Regions from separate parts of the Homo sapiens genome. Here region 2 is linked to region 1. A link means that fine-mapping ties the variant in region 1 to the expression of a gene that starts in the linked region. Tissue or cell type: whole blood. Region 1 holds a variant in brackets; the other region holds the start of a gene. All regions are shown on one strand. Distances are from middle to middle.

What was found. PIP is the estimated chance that this variant, and not a neighbour inherited with it, causes the effect.
Region 2: IL10RA starts here. The variant in region 1 is the best candidate, but not a certain one, in a credible set for the expression of IL10RA in whole blood (TOPMed, PIP 0.60).

Annotation. Positions count from the first base shown.
Region 1 is chr11:118,006,057-118,010,348 of GRCh38, forward strand. SMIM35 (small integral membrane protein 35) reads right to left here. Exons shown (of 5, transcript NM_001394165.1): 5 at 1-320. Among named protein-coding and RNA genes, the nearest start is that of IL10RA, 22 kb to the left of the region's middle. RefSeq lists a silencer at 3,860-3,909. The variant T/C (reference allele first, on the strand shown) is at 1,788.
Region 2 is chr11:117,984,048-117,988,199 of GRCh38, forward strand. IL10RA (interleukin 10 receptor subunit alpha) reads left to right here and starts at 2,347. Exons shown (of 7, transcript NM_001558.4): 1 at 2,347-2,487. The coding sequence starts at 2,421. RefSeq lists enhancers at 1,775-1,834, 3,225-3,524 and silencers at 2,025-2,124, 2,145-2,424.

The sequences.
Region 1 (4,292 bases):
ACAAAGGTTCTGAAAACTTACTGGCCAGCACCACCTTCTCTCCCATCCTTCACAATCAACTTTTTGAAAGAATTGAAAGACTCACTGACTCCACTTCCAACTGCTTCTGCAGCACTGACAGCTCCAGGGACACCCCGCACATGGTATGCTATAATATGCGAATGGCCGGATGGACTGCCGCAGCAAGCTTGTTGGTCTGGAAATGCTCCAAAGGCAAAGAGGAAGAGGCAACAGCCCCAGGGAGTAGAAAGAATGCTCAGCCACTTTCTGTTCTCTCCACATGAAACTGTCATGTCAGTTCTGGGCCTCAGTCTTCTCATCTGTGAAATGGACACAGTAGTCTTCAAGTTGACTTCTTTAATTAGTGCCCTGGGCACATTGCTACCCCTGAGTGTGCTACATGCAGTACTGACTGTAGGCTCCTGGGCAGCAAAAACCCCTCTGATTTCTCTCTGTGTCCTTTGCACCCAATCAATGCCTAACACATCGCAATGGGTGCTCAATACTCAATAAATTTTGATGAATAAATGAGTGCATGGATGAATGAATTTCTTCCATTCGTGGTAAGGAACTTGAAGAAGCATAGTATCCAAACATGAGAAGGCAACAGTGGTGATGGTAGCTTGTGGCTGAACAGATACTTGGGAGGCATTTAGACTGAGCCTAAAGAAAAGCAGCCTGTATATATCTATTATTTTAAATTTTATCTTCAGGCTTGTCATCTTCCTAGCTGAGTCATATCATGCTGGATCCCTTCCCTGCAATTTTCACCCTACAACTCTTGGGTGTTGTAGGAACTCAGGGCTATAGACCAAATGGGAAGGCAAGGGGATGTGGTCAAGAGACAAGGCAAAGGACCATGAAAACATTCAACATGCATTCACTCTTTGGGCAAACATTCATTGAGCCTCTGTCATGGGCAGGCCCTCTGGAAATACAAAAGGCATCAGACATGATCCTTCTCCTTCTTGGCTCAGTTGTGTAGTACATACACACACACACGCACACGCACACACACACAGGGGTGTCTCCACCCACCTCCTTCTCCACTCCCCACCCCCACCCAGCACTGTGGAACTGATTAGAGTCCATCTGGAGGGAGAAGTAGGTTCTTGGGGGCCAAAGATGTCAGAGTAGCTGCCAGTTTGGACTGAGGCTAGAAGTGGGTGAAAAAGGATTATTCCGAGTTACCTGAGCTCTGAAATAGCCTCCCAGCTGGAAGGGACCTCAGAGTCCTCAGGTCCAATGGCAGCCTTATACAAACAAACACAGCATCAGGGGCTCAGAGAGCTTGCGCTCACCAGCTACAAGGGGAGGAAATGGGACTAGAATAGAAGATGTAACTTCTTTTTTTTTTTGAGACTGAGACTCGCTCTGTTGCCAGGCTGGAGTGCAGTGGTGCAATCTTGGCTCACTGCAACCTCTGCCTCCTGGGTTCAAGAGATTCCCCTGCCTCAGCCTCCCAAATAGTGGGGGCTACAGTCAGGCACCACCATGCCCAGCTAACTTTTGTATTTTTAGTAGAGACAGGGTTTCACCATGTTGGCCAGGATGGTCTCAAACTCTTGACCTTGTGATCCACCCGCCTTGGCCTCCCAAAGTGCTGGGATTATAGGTGTGAGCCACTGTGCCCGGCCGAAGATGTGACTTCTTATACTGCTCACCATCATCCCCCCAGTGGTTCTCTGCTTATCATGAGAAACCGCATCCTCCTGATTAGGGAGGAGTAGACCAACCCAATAGCTCTGCAGATAAAAACTCACTTCCAGCACTGCCCAACCTGTTTT[T/C]TCTTGATTTGTTTTTCAACTTCTTGCTTTCTTTTTTTTTTTTTCTTTTGACAGTCTTGCTCTGTCTCCAGGCTGGAGTCCAGTGGCACAATCTCAGCTCTCTGCAACATCTGCCTCCCAGATTCAAGCAATTCCCTTGCCTCAGCCTCCCTAGTAGCTAGGATTATAGGCACGAGCCACCACGCTCGGCTAATTTTTGTAGTTTTAGCAGAGATGGGTTTTCACTATGTTGGCCAGGCTGATCTTGAACTCCTGACCTCAAGTGATCCACCCGCCTTGGCTTCCCAAAGTGCTAGGATTACAGGCGTGAGCCACCGTGCCCGGCCACACCTGTTGTTTTGCTGGCCTGCTGCTACTCTGGGCAGGCAGAACATTTTCACTTCTGGTCTCCAAGTGTGAGAATTCACCAGGCCACTGGCTTCCTGTTTTGTACCAGATCTGTTTAAATATCACGGCTTCTAGATGGTTTTAGATCACTAAGCAGTTTTTAGAAATATAATAATGATCCTCCCATCTGCTCCCACTTTGAGTTTCTCAGACCCCTGGAGCAGAGAGTGGAGCACCAGAGACTCTGGCCTCCTGGCTCCTGGCACCAGGCCCCCTCCAATGCCACTGGCATGGGACAAGACCATTAAGATTTGAAGAAGAACCTAGAGGAGAGAAAAGCTCCCTCTTCACCTGCCAGCCTTGTCACGGTTTTGATCATTCCTTAGGTTATCCTTTAAGATAGAAAAATCGTCATCTGTGTGCTCTCTCTCAGAAATGTAACTGATCATGAGCACAAGGTTGAATGTAGTCAAGGATGGGGAGAGATCAAAAGTTTTGGTTTTCAGAGCACCTAGGATTGCACCAGGGATGAAGCAATGCCCAAGATGTTCTGAAGAGAGATTTCAACACAATTTCCTGAGAAGTTCCTGGCTATGGCCAGAGCCATGCAAAGTACCGTGGAGAACTCAGAAGAGGTTTAAAACCTGATTCTGCCTGCAAGAAATGCCCATCAAATAGGAGAAAGCAAGGTTAATTTCAGGGAGACTGGATGCCCCCATGGTGCCTAGCATAGTTCCTGGCATGTTATGGAAGCAGCGTGAATAAATGAATGCAAAGAAATAATCAATAATAAAGTTATGGGGGCCTGAGACTATCTGTATTTAAAATCAGCAGAGCACAAGATCCATGGGTCTTACAGAAGTCTCCCTGGAGAAGGGAAATTTGAGCTGGCATGAAGAATGGGCAGAATTTGGTGATTTGGAGGTCAAGGAAGTTCTAAAAAAACAAAAGGAAGAAAGAGGAGTGGGTCAGTGGGAAGCTCAGAGCTGAGGATGGGGCCTGGGGAGGACTGGGCTCCTGAGCGCCCTTCTCACCACACAAGGAGACCCCAAAAAGAGATTAGAGACCATCTGGAGGGAGGAGTATGTTCTTGGGGGCCAAGGATGTTAGGATAGCTGCCAGTTTGGACTGAGGCTAGAAGTGGGTGACAAAGGACTATAAAGAAAATAGATTCTTGCTTGGCCTTGAACAAATCACTTCACGGCACTCTGGGCCTCTGTTCCCTCACCTGTGAGGCTGTGAGGATGAAGACGCGCATCATAAGCCTCTGCCCTGCACTGATATGTGCTCAGCAAATGTTAGCGTTTCACCCTACAGGTAAAGTTGGTTGGGAATGGGCCAGACTTGGAACCTGGTCAGACACACGCAGAGTCAAGGAAAGGCTAAGTAATGCTTAGAATCCTAGACCACTAGGGAACTGCAGCCATCACCTTTCAACTGCCATCTCCTAAATTAGAAAGATATATTGACACTTTGTACTTGCATCTTTTAATTGTTTACTGAGCACCTACTATGGACCAGGCTATACGCTAAGAACTGAGAATGCAGACGCTTTAAAAAAAAAAAAAAAAAAAGTAGATGAGGTCTTTGCTCTCCTACAGGTAAGAACCAGGAGAAGCCTTGGAAAAATAGTCCAATCTTTTGATTCCAGATGCTGAAATAGATGTCCAAAGAGGTGGAGTAAGTAGCCCATGACCACACAGCACATCAGGGCAGGGTCAGAACCAGACCTTATACTACATTCAGTTCTCATCCTTACGCCCTGATGTCAGCTACATCCGTGAGGGTGCAGACTCTGCTCAGCTCTGGTGCAGCCAGTAGCCAGTTGTGGAACTTGGGTAAAGCATGCTGCTTTTCTGACCCAAGTGCCCCCATATGTAAAACGGGACCAAGAATAATCCCTGTGTCTCAAGCTTGACATAAGGCTCAAAATGCAGTACCATGCAAGAAAAGGCTTTGTGTTCTGTGGACTGTGAACTGTGCAAACAGTCTCTGCTCCTCCTTTTGATCACTAAGCAGTTTTTAAAAAGATAATAATGATCCTCCCATCTGCTCCTACTTTGAGTTTCTCAGACTCCTGAAGCAGAGAGAGGGGCACCAGAGACACTGCCCTCCTGGCTCCTGGCACCTGGCCCCCTCCAATGCCACTGGCATGGGACGAGATCATTAAGACTTCAA
Region 2 (4,152 bases), 22 kb before region 1:
AGGGCTTGAGGGATGCACACACAGTCCCAAACACACATATGCACTTGGCAAACAGACAACGTTCTCCACACCACAATGAAATCCAAATCCACAGACTGGCCACTGCAAATCATATATGACTGCAAGTGCACACACACACACACACACACACACACACACACACACACACTTTGAAGCAGGTGTCAGCCTCCAAGAAAAAGTGATGGACAGTCTGTCTCTCATATCCTCACATATTTGGTTCACCTGGAGATGGCCTCAGATGAGCCAAGTGACACAGAGGTGCGAGAGACTGAGGATGTGCTGAGGTGTTACCCAGCACTCCAGTAGTGCTATTACCCAACACAAAAATTGGTCTGAATATCAGATTTCAAGCAAGCAAGGGAAACCCAGAAGAGACTGGGAGAAGTCCTTATGGAGGCTAAAGCAACTCCATGTTGGATGCTAATCCACAGTTTTGGCCGTGTTGGCTTTGGAGCCTCCCAGAAGACCTCTGAGATTCCCAATTTATCAATTGCTCCTTGTGTAAGTGCAAACACTTACTGTAAATCCGGCCCTTAGGTCAAACAACCTTGATGTTATCATACTTCAACTGTCCTACACATCTTTTCTGAATCACCCTTCCCCTGTGGTCTATAAGCCCTGGTCCTGGGGGTGAATCATGGAGACACAAACGTAGCTTCTGTTTATAAGTCCTTATTAAATGTTTTTTTCGAAGAAACTGGATGTGTCAGCCTGTAACCTGCAAAAGGATCTGGCTGCTCTCTGCTTGTAGAAAGAATGGATAATAAAGGAAAATCTGCTAGCTGCCATGCTAGCAGGGGAAGAGCAGCAAACAATTCCACTCTTCAATTCATGGGGGGAACGCAGGGGTTTTTTAAGAAAGGATCTGAAATGCAGAAAAGGCAAGGGGGAGGTTAGGAGGTACCAGGTGGTGTGACTTGCTCCAGTGGTCCTCTTTAATTATCGTCTTATTTGGTGGAGGGGCTGGTGCAATCGTGGATCCTGCCAGGTTATAAATTAGTTACTCTTCAGCAGGGTATATGTTCAACTCCTGAAGTAAGCTTTTGTTGGAGAGAGAATTCCGGAGGTGCCTGGTCCCTATCAGGACGCAGCTCCTGAGGCATCTAAGGAAATATATGACCAGGTAAGAGCATAGCGTGTGCTTAACAAGCACGTAGGTAAATAAACGTGCGTAAGGCATGGGAGTACAGTATGGGACAGGAAAGGGAGTGGAGGTCACAGCACGTCCTGAGGCTGTGTTTTAAGATGAGAGGTAACATACATGCAGTTTGTCTCAAAATTATATCTTGAGGCCCAGAGGAGGAAGAGAAAAAAGGAAAGAAGAGAAACTAAGTTTAAAACACGGTTTAAGGCTGGGCGCGGTGGCTCACCCCTGTAATCCCAGCACTTTGGGAGGCTGAGGCGGGTGGATCACCTGAGGTCAGGAGTTCGAGACCAGCCTGGCCAACATGGTGAAACCCCGTCTCTACTAAAAATACAAAAATTAGCCCAGGCGTGGTGGCACATGCCTGTAATGCCAGCTACTCGGAAGGCTGAGGCAGGAGAATCGCTTGAACCTGGGAGACGAAGGTTGCAGTGATCCGAGATCACGCCACTGCATTCCAGCTTGGGCGACAGAGCGAGACTGTAAAAAAAAAAAATAGATAAAAAAATTTTAAAAATCGCGGTTTGAGGCTCAGCTGCTGAGCTGCTGGTTAAAAGCCTCTTTCTTGGGTCTCTCAGCTTCCTGGGACTTTGGGGGCAGGTCTGCATAAACTGCTTAGTTGTGGACCCCCCTCCAACAATTAGGTAGGGGACTACTCAGTATTCATCCATCGGTGTCCTCAGACCCCCAGACGGGGAGGCCCTGGGGCAACGCCAAGACTCACACCGGCGTCCTGGCGCCTTTGCCCTCAAGGGCCTGCAACTACCTCCTCCCCATTCGGAGCGGCCGCGGCCACATCCTTAACGCCAAGCCGGCACGCCAGGCAAAAGCGGCTCGGACGCCCTCACCCCACCTTCCGCACTCAGGGCCGAGGCTGTGCCTGGCCACCTGCTTCCCAGCACATGCACACACGCGCGCGCGCACACACCCACACACACGTACCCACGGCCGGCCGGGCTACCCGGACCACTTTGATCCGAAGGCACTGGAGGCCCAGAGGGAAGGAAAGGGAGGGGTGGCCGGAGCCCGCTAGCGCCCCAGGACAGCCTCGGGTTGCCCCAGGCGGTAGCCCTGTGGGACAGTGGTTCCCCGTCCGCGGCCTCGGGGGCGGGGCGTCTGTAGGCCTCGCCCCGCTGACGTCAGCCCTGCGGGGCGCTGGCGGAGCGGGCGGCGGAGCTGTCAGTCCCAGCCCAAGGGTAGCTGGAGGCGCGCAGGCCGGCTCCGCTCCGGCCCCGGACGATGCGGCGCGCCCAGGATGCTGCCGTGCCTCGTAGTGCTGCTGGCGGCGCTCCTCAGCCTCCGTCTTGGCTCAGACGCTCATGGTAAGGCTCCGGGACGCGGCCCTTCCCTGCCCTGCCCTCTCCGCGCCCGCTCCATTAAAGTTCTCCATCCAGTGGAGAGCCCTGGCTGGCTGGCCCTCTGGCAGAGCGGTGCCCGGGTGCTCCCTTACTCTGGCAAACCTGGATCTCAGGCTCACCTGTTGTGGAAGTGGAAGAGGCTGAAATTGACAGGAACTGACGGATTGGGAAGGATAGAGAAGTATGCGCAAGGCCAAACCCCCAACCCGCAAACCTCATCATCCACCCACTTCTAGATGAGCCGTAAGTTTAGCTCTAGGTTTTTTGCTGTTTAGGTTCAAATGATGGGACTTCTTGTCCCCTTGGGGAATAATTTTGATCTCCTGACTCTCCCTTCTCTTAGTCGACTCTTCAACTAACCTCTGTCTGTCCTTCTCCCATCTCACCTTCATCCCTCACTGATCACCCCGATCTGATCCCCCTTGCTCCACCTGTAGCCCCCAACTCACTCCCACTGCCCCCTGCCTCTCTCCTCCTAACCCAGCCAGTTCAGGCTTCTAACCCAGTTCAGGCTCCTAACCCAGACAGTTCTCCGGCAAGGTTTCTGCAACTAAGAAAAGTAAACCCCAGAGACAGAATGAAAGAGCCGGGAGTTGGAAGGACCAAGAGCAGAGACAGAGAGCAAGGACCGAAACTGCTTCTTCATGACACCAAAATACAAAGTAAAACATGCAGTCAGCCATTCACGTGATCGAGAGCTGAGTCGGAGATGTGCAGCCCAAATACCACAACGACTCGCTGCATTTTTCACTTTCCGTCTAATGTTTCGAAATCAAGGCACTGACGTGAAGATCAAAGACGGTATAAGAAAGAAAGCAAGAGACAGATGACAGAGTCCTCCCCCCCAAAAAATAAATAAAAAACAGGTGCATGATTAGAGAGATGTAGAGAAGTTAGAACACTAGGGAGCGGGAGCAGAGTCGCTGTCAAATGGAGAGAACTTAGAGGATCAAGGAGGAGAGAAAGGGAACCAACCAGCCGTTGGCCTTGCACATACTTCAGTCTGCTTGATCAACAAGACTCTTAAAGTAGAAATGTTTGTTGCATTCTTACAAAGAAGACAATGCCTTCAGCAGTGTTTCCCATGGTGAATGGTGTGTACTGGGGGTAAAGGGAGAGTAGAGCTAGGAATTGGTATTGAGTATCTCTCCTCGGAGCTACAGGTGCCAGCTCTTGTGGGGATGTCCTCAGCCATGTGTAGAGCCAGAGCTGATTTATTCCATCTGTCCTTGCCCAGCCAGAGGTTGGACATCTGGCTATAGGCAAAGCCCTCCCAGAAACTAGGGAATGAGGCAAGCACTTAGCTTGGGGAGCCCAGGAGACCTATGAAGAGAAGGAGGCAGATGTCAGCAAGCAGGCTGTCTGTGTACTTAGTGAGGTGGCTTTGAGCTGGAGCCTGGGCCAAGCCAGGGTGGGGATCAGGTGTGTGGATGGGGCCAAGCCTAGGAATAGTGCTAGAGCAGGGACAGGGATTGGGCAGAGCCAGGGACTAACACATCTGAGAGCTCATTGCCAACTTGCTTAGCCCTCGGCCCCTGCCTTCTTCCCTGGTAGGCATCAGACTCAGCTTGGCTCTTCTCAGCCCCCACTGCAGCTTCTGATCACAGAGAGCACAGGGCAGTGATTTAG